Linked DNA regions of Homo sapiens: region 2 is linked to region 1. The links come from fine-mapping of genetic effects on gene expression. Tissue or cell type: whole blood. Region 1 holds a variant in brackets; the other region holds the start of a gene. All regions are shown on one strand. Distances are between the middles of the regions.

Evidence for each region. PIP is the estimated chance that this variant, and not a neighbour inherited with it, causes the effect.
Region 2: TRIM4 starts here. The variant in region 1 is fine-mapped to the expression of TRIM4 in whole blood (TOPMed, PIP above 0.99).

Annotation. Positions count from the first base shown.
Region 1 is chr7:99,887,857-99,893,007 of GRCh38, forward strand. TRIM4 (tripartite motif containing 4) reads right to left here. Exons shown (of 6, transcript NM_033091.3): 6 at 2,547-4,890. The coding sequence ends at 4,307. Among named protein-coding and RNA genes, the nearest start is that of OR2AE1, 13 kb to the left of the region's middle. RefSeq lists an enhancer at 1-181. The variant C/T (reference allele first, on the strand shown) is at 3,064.
Region 2 is chr7:99,916,651-99,921,801 of GRCh38, forward strand. TRIM4 (tripartite motif containing 4) reads right to left here and starts at 2,880. Exons shown (of 6, transcript NM_033091.3): 1 at 2,359-2,880. The coding sequence starts at 2,751. LOC101927610 (a long non-coding RNA gene) reads left to right here and starts at 2,953. Exons shown (of 2, transcript XR_001745296.3): 1 at 2,953-3,177; 2 at 4,534-5,151. RefSeq lists a silencer at 2,452-2,611 and enhancers at 2,742-2,791, 2,822-2,901, 3,142-3,251.

The DNA of each region.
Region 1 (5,151 bases):
AGGGGCTCCTCACTTCCCAGTAGGGGCGGCCGGGCAGAGGCGCCCCTCACCTCCCGGACAGGGCGGCTGGCCGGGTGGGGGGCTGAACCCCCCACCTCCCTCCCGGACCGGGCGGCTGGCCGGGCGGGGGGCTGACCCCCCCACCTCCCTCCCGGACGGGGTGGCTGGCCGGGCAGAGGGGCTCCTCACTTCCCAGTAGGGGCGGCCGGGCAGAGGCGCCCCTCACCTCCCGGACAAGGCGGCTGGCCGGGCGGGGGGCTGACCCCCCCACCTCCCTCCCGGACGGGGCGACTGGCTGGGCAGGGGGCTGACCCCCCACCTCCCTCCCGGATGGGGCGGCTGGCCGGGCAGAGGGGCTCCTCACTTCCCAGTAGGGGCGGCCGGGCAGAGGCGCCCCTCACCTCCCGGACGAGGCGGCTGGCCGGGCGGGGGGCTGACCCCCCCACCTCCCTCCCGGACGGGGCGGCTGGCCGGGCGGGGGGCTGACCCCCCTACCTCCCTCCCGGACGGGGCGGCTGGCTGGGCGGGGGGCTGACCCCCCCACCTCCCTCCCGGACGGGTCGGCTGCCGGGCGGAGAAGCTCCTCACTTCCCAGACGGGGTGGCTGCCGGGCGGAGGGGCTCCTCACTTCTCAGACGGGGCGGCTGCTGGGCGGAGGGTCTCCTCCCTTCTCAGATGGGGCGGCCGGGCAGAGACGCTCCTCACCTCCCAGACGGGGTCGTGGCTGGGCAGAGGCGCTCCTCACATCCCAGACGGGGTGGCGGGGCAAAGGCGCTCCCCACATCTCAGACGATGGGCGGCTGGACAGAGACGCTCCTCGCTTCCTAGATGGGATGGTGGCCGGGAAGAGGCGCTCCTCACTTTCCAGACTGGGCAGCCAGGCAGAGGGGCTCCTCACATCCCAGACGATGGGCGGCCAGGCAGAGACGCTCCTCACTTCCTAGACAGGGTGGCGGCCGGGCAGAGGCTGCACTCTGGGCACTTTGGGAGGCCAAGGCAGGCAGCTGGGAGGTGGAGGTTGTAGCGAGCCGAGATCACGCCACTGCACTCCAGCCTGGGCACCATTGAGCACTGAGTGAACCAGACCCGTCTGCAATCCTGGCACCTCCGGAGGCCAAGGCTGGCAGATCACTCGCGGTTAGGAGCTGGAGACCAGCCCGGCCAACACAGCGAAACCCCGTCTCCACCAAAAAAATACGAAAACCAATCAGGCGTGGCGGCGCGCGCCTGCAATCGCAGGCACTCGGCAGGCTGAGGCAGGAGAATCAGGCAGGGAGGTTGCAGTGAGCCGAGATGGCAGCAGTACAGTCCAGCTTCGGCTCGGCATCAGAGGGAGACCGTGGAAAGAGAGGGAGAGGGAGAACGTGGGGAGAGGGAGACCGTGGGGAGAGGGAGAGGGAGAGGGACAGGGAGAGGGAGAGGGACTTGGTTGGCTTTTTAAACAAAAATGAACACCTAGGTCCCATCCCATACCTGATGAGACCAGAGGGGTCAATATCAAGACTCAAGCACAGAGACAAAGAATTGTGAAGAATAAGAAGGGTAGGGGAAAAGAATTTTTTCTCTGTTGAAGATGCAAGTTCTTTGCAATCGTATGAAGGGGGACTCATGAAGGCTTAAAAGGAAAAGTTTGGAATCATTGCCACCAAAGACGTTAAAACAAGTCAAGTGATAAAAAAAGTTTACCATGCAGCTCAAAGGGCCCACTTGAAGGCAGAGAGCAAGGATTTATAGCAGAATCAATCAACCTTTCAATAGCCAGAAGGAAGAGAGGAGGGAAGGTACTGATGAGTTTCCAAAGGATTAGCTATTAGTAAGACAGGCACTGAAGGACGTCCTGAAGGGCAAGTGTAGTCATCATTTCCTAAGGTGGCCATAACAAACTGGGTGGCTTAAAACAATGGAAATTTACTGTCTAACCTCAGTTTTGGCAGTTAGAAATCAGAAACCAAAGTGTTGATGGGGCCATGCTCCCTTCAAAGCTTCTAGGGGAAGATTCTTCCTGGCTTCCCCCAGCTTCTGGTAGCCCCAGGTTCCTTGGCTTGTGACAGCATAACTCCAATCCAATCTCTGCCTCCATCTTCCAGAGCCTCTTTCACGTTGTTTCCATCTGGCATTTTTCTGTGTGTGTGTGGGCATGAGTGTGTGAACATATGCATAAGTTTCCTTCTTTTTATAAGGACACCAGTCATATTGGGTTAGAGCCCACCCAAATGACCTTATCTTGTTTACATCTGCAAATATCCTATTTCCAAATAAGGTCATTTTCACAGGTAGCTCTTCAACATATGTTTTTGGGGAACATAATTCAACCTATAACAGCAAATATCCTGGGAAGTTGAGAACTCAGTAGAAACTGTTGAATGAGGGGGCTGCTCAGGCTGAATAGGAAGACAAGCCAAGATGGCTGATGTATAAGAAGGGGAGGAGGGGAGGAGGAGTTAGGGAAGATGCTGTAAGTTGTGTAAGAATCCTCACTACCACCATTCAACCCAGCAATCCCATTATTCGGTATATGCCCAATACCCAAAGACATCATTCAACCATAGAGACATATGCATGTATATATTCATTGCAGCACTATTCACAATAGCAAAGACATGGAATCAACCTAAATGCCCATCAACAGTAGACTGGATAAAGAAAACATAGTACATATACACCATGGAATACTATGCAGCCATAAAAAAAGAATGAGATCATGTCTTTGCAGCAACATGGATGGAGCTGGAGGCCATTACCCTAAGCAAACCAACACATGAACAGAAAACCAAACATCACATGTTCTCACGTATAAGGGAGAGCTAAACATTGAGTACCCATGGACACAAAAAAGGGAACAACAGACACCAGGGACTACTTGAGGGTAGAGGGTGGAGGAGGGTGGGGTATCAAAAAAGTATCTATTGGGTACTATGCTTATTACCTGGGTAATGAAATAATATGTACACCAAACCCCTGTGACATGTAATTGATCTATAGAACAAACCTGCACGTGTTCCCCTTAAACTAAAATATAAGTTAAAATAAAATCCTCGTTAAATCACTGCCTGAAAGTCTTTA[C/T]TGAAAATCTGGGAGAAAATATATTGAAATGTTAGTAGTGCATAACTTTAATTTTTATACTTTTTGCATCTTACAAACTTTCTACAATAAGTACACATGACTTATATAAACAGAGAAAAGCAATCATTATCTTAAAAATAACTATCCAGTAACTGCCACAATCTCCTGAGTCCAGACAATCTAGAGCAGAAGGGTAGACTGAGGAAAATATACACAGTATAAAAAAGTAACAAAATCAAAACCTGAAACAAAGATCAACATCCAATAAATGCTTCTGAATAAAGGGAGAGTAGATAAGAACTGGATTTTAATCCCAACACTGCCATTTACCAGCTGGCCAATACTGAGCTAGTTACTCTAAAGAGTTCAGTTTTCTCATTTGTACAAATAGGATTTGACTTTCCATCTCACTGAGTTGTGATGAGAGTCATATGCAACAGCATATGAAGAGGCTAGCAAAAGATATTTAACAAGCGTTCAACATTCTCATGATGACATGAATAACACTGTACATACAACATACCAACTTGATAAATACACAGCACAGTTAATAGCTGAGGGCAGAGTTATGGTTGGGAAGAGAGAGAGTGCAACATAGGCAGAGTGAGGGGGGATTCCCACAATTTTCTAAGACAGAAAAGTGGGGGAATCAGTAGTTACTGGAAAGAATAGGCAATGCCTGACTGGATAGAAAAAGATTCTATGCCTTTGTCAAATTTCACAAAAGTGACTTAAGCCTATACTGCGGGATGTTCACACTACGTCCCTTTAGTGCAGTTACGGTACTTCAGGCTGCAAGTAACCAAATACAACTAAAATTGTCTTATACAATAAGGGCGTAATTATCTCATATAACAAGAAGCTTGGCATGAAGGAAATTTCAACAATTTCACAACGGCAACAAAAACTCTGTTTCTTCTACCTTTCCACCATTCCTGTGTTCTCAGTTCCAATATGGCTGCTAACATCCATATGTCTTCCCCGCACATCTCTTTAAAAGCTACAAAAAGATTTCCCAAAAGCGTCTTGGAAAATTTCCTGTCCCATCTCCATTGGCCAGACCCACCTCCCATGGGACTGCCTCTTGTGAAGCACACAAAGGGCAGATACCAAACGGTACCGTTAGGGAGACCCAGAAGATGGACCATCCAGGATAGAGACATGAAGGGCAGAAGAGGGCCCAGGGATGTGTGTCCCTCAGCTGGACTACAGGGAAGGAGTTTTGGTCAGGGGAAGAAAAGCCTCATTTCCTATCAGTCACTGGTGGAATGACTAAAGATGCTAATGGACTCAACCAAAAAAATGGCCGGAGGCGTGAGACAGAAGAACAAGAAAAGGTGTGCAGGTGCACTCCGTCCACAGCGCTGTAGAAGGAGACATTCCCAGTCCCACGATCCAGGTAAACCCCCACTCGGTGGAGAGCTGGCTCTTGCTGGGTGGGAGTTCCAGGGAAGCCTATCAAGGGCCAATAGCCAGCAGCACTCCAATAAATCGCCCAGATGCCCACATCTGGGGACATTTTTGAACGATCAGTAATTCCCATGACGTCCTCCCGACACACCCCAACAGCAACCTCCAGACTATCTCTACTCTCAACTTCCCAGTAATGTTTCCCTGAGGTGAAAACGTTTTTTCCCAGAACACAGGGTAAGTGCTGAAATCTCTCTACAAAAGCAGTCTTCTGAGGATTCCTCCATCCAGCAAAGTAGTTCCATGCTGAAGAAAACACTGGCCAAGAACTGGCTGATGCTGTATTTTTCACGTATCTCCCTTCCTGGGAGAAGACGAGTTTGGGATGAGCTGTGTCTTCAGCTAGGTTTACAGCCACTGTGGAGAAAATGAGAGCTAAGTAGTGCAGCAGCTTATCATCAACCCTTCCCCAGAAATGCCCATCTTTTCCAGCATCAGTTTCATCTTTCTCCTCCTAACAAACACTCATGACTCCACTGCTGCCCAACTGATCCTCAGCCAGGCCTAGCAGGCCACAGCATGGCCTTTAGCAACCTGAAGTCCTCATTTCCCTTCTGCTCTAAAAGACTAAGCCCTAGACCAGGCGCAGTGACTCATGCCTGTAATCCCAGCACTTTG
Region 2 (5,151 bases), 29 kb after region 1:
ATCCCTCCCTCTCCATCATCCCTGCCCTGAACTAATTCAGGTCTTTATTACCTCCTGCTTAAAATGGTACAAGAGCAGCCTAATTAGTCTTCTCTTCCATTCATCCACGTGGATGTCAAAGTTACCTGTCTAAAACAAAAAAAACGATCATATCATTCCCTGCCTTAAAACCCTTTTATAACTCCCCACTGCCTGAAAGAGAAAGTTCAATCTTTTTACTATGGCAAACAAGATCCTTCATGATAAGGCCCTGCCTTTTTCTTCAAGCTCATGGCCCACCATCCTCCTTCCCATGCTCCATGCTCCAGAAGTACTGAGCAACCTCCAGTCCTCTCACACACCACATGCTATCCCACTCCACCACATTTGGAATATGCTGTTCCTTTGGCCTGAAATACCTTCTTTCCTACCTCTACTCACCCTTGAAGAGCTAACACATTTAACTCCTCAACGGAGCCTTTCCTCACTCCTCAGTGATCACTCCGACCTCAGACCTTCTGTACACTTGGTAAATACTTCAGCTACTCTCACACACACTGAAATTAATGTTGTACACGCTTAAGTTCCTTACAAGACAAAGCCCATGTCTTTCTCATCCACTTATGTCCAGATTCTAAAACAATGTTTGGCAAATAGTAAGCATCAATAAACGTTACTGAGTGAAGGAATGAACATACACTTTCTAGTCCAGCTTTGTGTCTGTTTCCTGTTCATAGTCAGCTGGTACAACTGTACAGTATTTTACAGTTTCCAAACATTTTCACTGTGTCATTAAATTCATGTGTTTGGCCAGGAAAGCTTGCTCACGCCTGTAATCCCAGCACTTTGGGAGGCCAAGGTGGGTGGATCACCTGAGGTCAGGAGTTCGAGACCAGCCTGACCAACATAGTGAAACCCTGTCTTCACTAAAAATACAAAATTAGCTGGGCATGCTGGCAGGTGCCTGTAATCCCAGCTACTCGGTAAGCTGAGGCAGGAGAATCACTTGAACCCGGGAGGTGGAGGTTGCAGTGAGTTGAGATCTCACCACTGCATTCCAGCCTGGGCAACAAGAGCGAAACTCCATCTCAAAAACAATAATAATAAAATAAATAAATAAATTCATGTGTTCATGTACTTACTGCATATCAATTCTGCTGGAGACCACTGGAGTTACACCATCAGTAATGGGAGGGGGTGGGGCTACTCTGGAAAGGATGATCAGGGAAGGTCTTCAAGCTAAAAGCTAAAAGGATCTAAAGGATAGATGTGGGTAGAGAAAGAGAACAGACTTGAAACAAAAGCAAGAAAGCCAGTATGGCTGAAGCAGAGTAAGGTAAAGTGATTTATTCAACCGGAGCTTCTTAACCCATGAGATAGGACAGATAATCCCCAAATTCAAATGTTACAGGATTTTCCCAACTGATGAAGGAAGCTAGTAACAAAACCCAGCCTCATCATTACAAGCTAGGCTTTTCCCAAATCATCAGCTGTCTATGACATTTACAGATACAGACAGGCACTGTCCAATACAGTATCCATTTAGCCATACAAGCACCTGAAACGTGGATATTCCAAACTGCTATGTGTTGTAAATGTAAAATACACACCAATTTCAGACCTATTATGAAAAAGGAGTATAAAATATCTCATTGAGGCCGGGCGTGGTGACTCACACCTTAATCCCAGCACTATGGGAGGCCAAGCGGGGCAGATCACTTGAGGTCAGCAGTTCGAGACCAGCCTGGCCAAGATGGTGAAACCCCTCTATACTAAAAAACAAAAATTAACCGGGTGTGGTGGCGTGTGCCTGTAATCCCAGCTACTCGGGAGGCTGAGGCAGGAGAACTGCTTGAACCCCGGAGGAGGAGGTTGCAGTGAGCCAAGATCACGCCACTGTGCTCCAGCCTGGGCAATAAAGTGAGACTCCATCTCAGAAAAAAAAAAAAAATCTCATTGATAATTTTCATCTCAGCTTTGAATATTTGGGGTAATCAGATTAAATAAAATATATTATTACAATTAACGTCACCTCGTTTCCTTATCTTACCAGAAAGATTTTAAATTACATATGTGGTTTCTATTGGACAGCAGCGGCACACACCCTCTCAGTATGTTTTTCTTTATTATGAGCTCCCCAAGGGCCAGTTTATTGAAAATTCTGCACAATGATTGCTGAGGTTTGCACCTCCCCTCCTCTCATTCCAGTTTTAACCCTAGCTCTGAAATTCGTGTTTTGCTTAACTTCTTTGAGTTTCAGGGGCTTTTCATGCTTCCAGTAGGAATGACAGCCACTTCGTGGCTCTTTTAGGAGCATTAAGTAAACTTTATCGGGCAACACTGACAGCCCCGTCATAGTCACCGCGACGGCCAGCTCACCCGGTAGCTCTCGAAGGCCTCGTCGATGGGTGCCATGGCGTGAGTCTGGTGCTCCTGGGACTCCCTGCACACCAGGCACACTGGCCGCTGGTCGTCCTCGCAGAAGAGCCGCAGCGGCTCCCAGTGGCGGCCGCACAGGCCCGGGGGCACGGGGCCCAGGCGCCGGCGCTGCGTCTTCTCAGTCAGCCTGGCCAGGGCCCAGTTGGGTCGCAGCGCGGCGGGCGCCGATGGGTGCCGACATTCGGGGCAGGGGAACGGGCCGCCGCCCGGCGCCCAGTTGCGGTGCAGGCAGCCGCGGCAGAAGTTGTGGCCGCACTCGATGGACACCGGGTCCTGGAAATAGTCCAGGCAGATGGGGCAGGTCAACTCCTCCTGGATGTCCTCAGCTTCCATGCTGCTTCCCTGCCGCGGAGACGGAGTCCGACGTGAGGCGCGGGAGAGGCCAGCAAGCTGCGAGCGGCCGCGGGGAGGCCAGACGACTTCCGAACCGCCGTCACCGCCTCACGTAAAAGGGTACAACGCAGTTTCTCTTCCGGGGTTCAGGACCCAAAAAGAACGCACGGACGTTGCCCGGCCTGAGCGCGCAAGACCGGAAGCTGCTGGGTATCCGCGCCGGAACCGCGAGGGGGTTGGTTCAGGCCTAGGCGCGGGGCAGGACGGGACCGGTGAGTGGCTCCTCCAAACAGCTATAGAGACCCAGAAATGCCTGTGGAAAGCTACAGAGGACTTGGGCAAGGCGTTAGAGCCGGACGTTGTGGTCCCTGGGGGAGCCAACCGGGGAGGTGCCTATGATCTTTCTTTCCAAGTTTGAGGGTTCAGGTCTGTGTTCGCCTGCTGGTTAGACCGATTTAAGTTTTAGAGTCCCAGGAGTTCTGGGCGAGCTGCAGCCTAGGGGCCTGGAAGGCCAGGAAGACTTGAAGGATCTGTGTTGGTAGGCCTGGAGTTTGGCTAACGTGGGGATGATTTGGATTCTGAGATGCAGATACATTGCCTTTTTGGTATCCAATTTGAAAAGTAGCAACCATTTTGCTATCCCAAAGAACATCCATGGAGGCTTTCAACAAATAATATGCTCACCTGTTTCAGGGAATTATCTATATCCCTTAAGTGGATTTTCGATCTTGTGTTTCTGAGGTGCTTTGCTTTTTATTCTTCCCACTTTCTTCCTTTTCTTGTGAATATTTGTTTAAAACAAAAAAAACTCTGGACTGACAAATTTAATAGAAGCTATTTGCACAAAGAACAGTTCATGAATTGGGCAGCACTCAGAACCAAAAGAGGTTCAGAGAGCTCTGTCCAGCAGTATGACCTGCTAGCTTTTATAGGAAGCAAAGTAGAGAAATCACCTCATTAGCTAACATCTAGGTGTCTGCCTTATTTGACAATGATATGATGAGGCATTTGCCTTATTGGGGCATGGTCTGATCAGTTGGCTGTCTGTTATTTGCTGAAGCTCGGCCGTGATTGGCTGAAACCCAGCTGTTATAAAAAATAAAGTAAGTTAGGCTTCAGTTCGTTTACATACTAAGTCAGGTTGTATTTTGTTATATGGGAACTCAAGTACCAAGACAGCCTCAGGCTAATGGGCTTTTGCTTATTTAACAGATTTTTCATTCTTTTTATGTCCCAATATCAAATACTGCCTTTCCTATAATAATTTTTCTCAGTAAGTAGTATGATTAAATGATTAGAAAAAGGGGTTCTTGAGGTATCTGTTTGGGGGTTATTGATGAAAGTTCCACTGAATATTTCTAAAACATTTAAATTGGACAACTAATGAATGGATTTTCTTTGCAAATTGGAATACTCTATGGAGAAGGGATCTGGTTCTTTAATAGGGACCAAGCAGGAAGGAATGCTCTTAACAGTTACTGATGTTTACCATGAGTGTTTATGGCATCTGTGTGTCTATATGTTTACCTAAGTATTGAATGAGAAGTTTCAGCATTCCTGCAAAGTATTTATTCCCCTTACAGTAGTCATTTAAATCTTTTCAGGTAAATCCCTTAAAATCCTTATGTCTTTATTCCTGCCATACCAGAGATGACCTTCCTTCTTTACTAAGTGAGGCTCCCTAATTAACAATTTTTCTCCATCACAAAATGTCTATAAGTCTGTATACCAGCCAAGGTTCATTCAGAGAAGTGGAATCACTATGTTTCTTTATGTTCGCAGGGCAAGCAGTTAAGAAGGGAAGATGAACATAAAGTAGGGAAGAGCAAAAATGAGTTGGAACCTAAGACACGAGCTGGTCATTCTTTCACTGTCTCCAACTTTAAAGATATGAGTATCCTTGCTAGAGGAGCTGACACTTTTTGCCACAGGACTAGACACACACACAGCTCAGGAATCAAAAAAGGTGAAGGAAGACTCAGGGAAAAGCTTCTGCCCCATCCCAACAAGGTGAACCAGCTGATTGGTGACAAAGTAGATGAGCCGCAGTAGCACCTAGTGTCCCTGCACCACCGTTTCAAGTATAAAACTGGAGGGATGCTTCAGTTCTCCCCTTCAAGACTTACACAACCATGTCTCTGTTGGGCTATTCTAACCAGAAACAAAAGGAAAGGAAATTCTGGGAAACATAGTTTAGCTTAGCAAAGTTGATATATTACAAAATTACCACTGTCCACTCTGCATCGAGTTGACATCCATACAGACCTCTTTAAAACACACTTTCAAAATAAAGTCCACACCCTACACATAAGCTATCTCTAGAGAAATTTGAAGTCTGTTGTGCACTGAGGATAACCACAACAACAAACTGTAAACCTAGCCCAATTTCTGACTAGACTG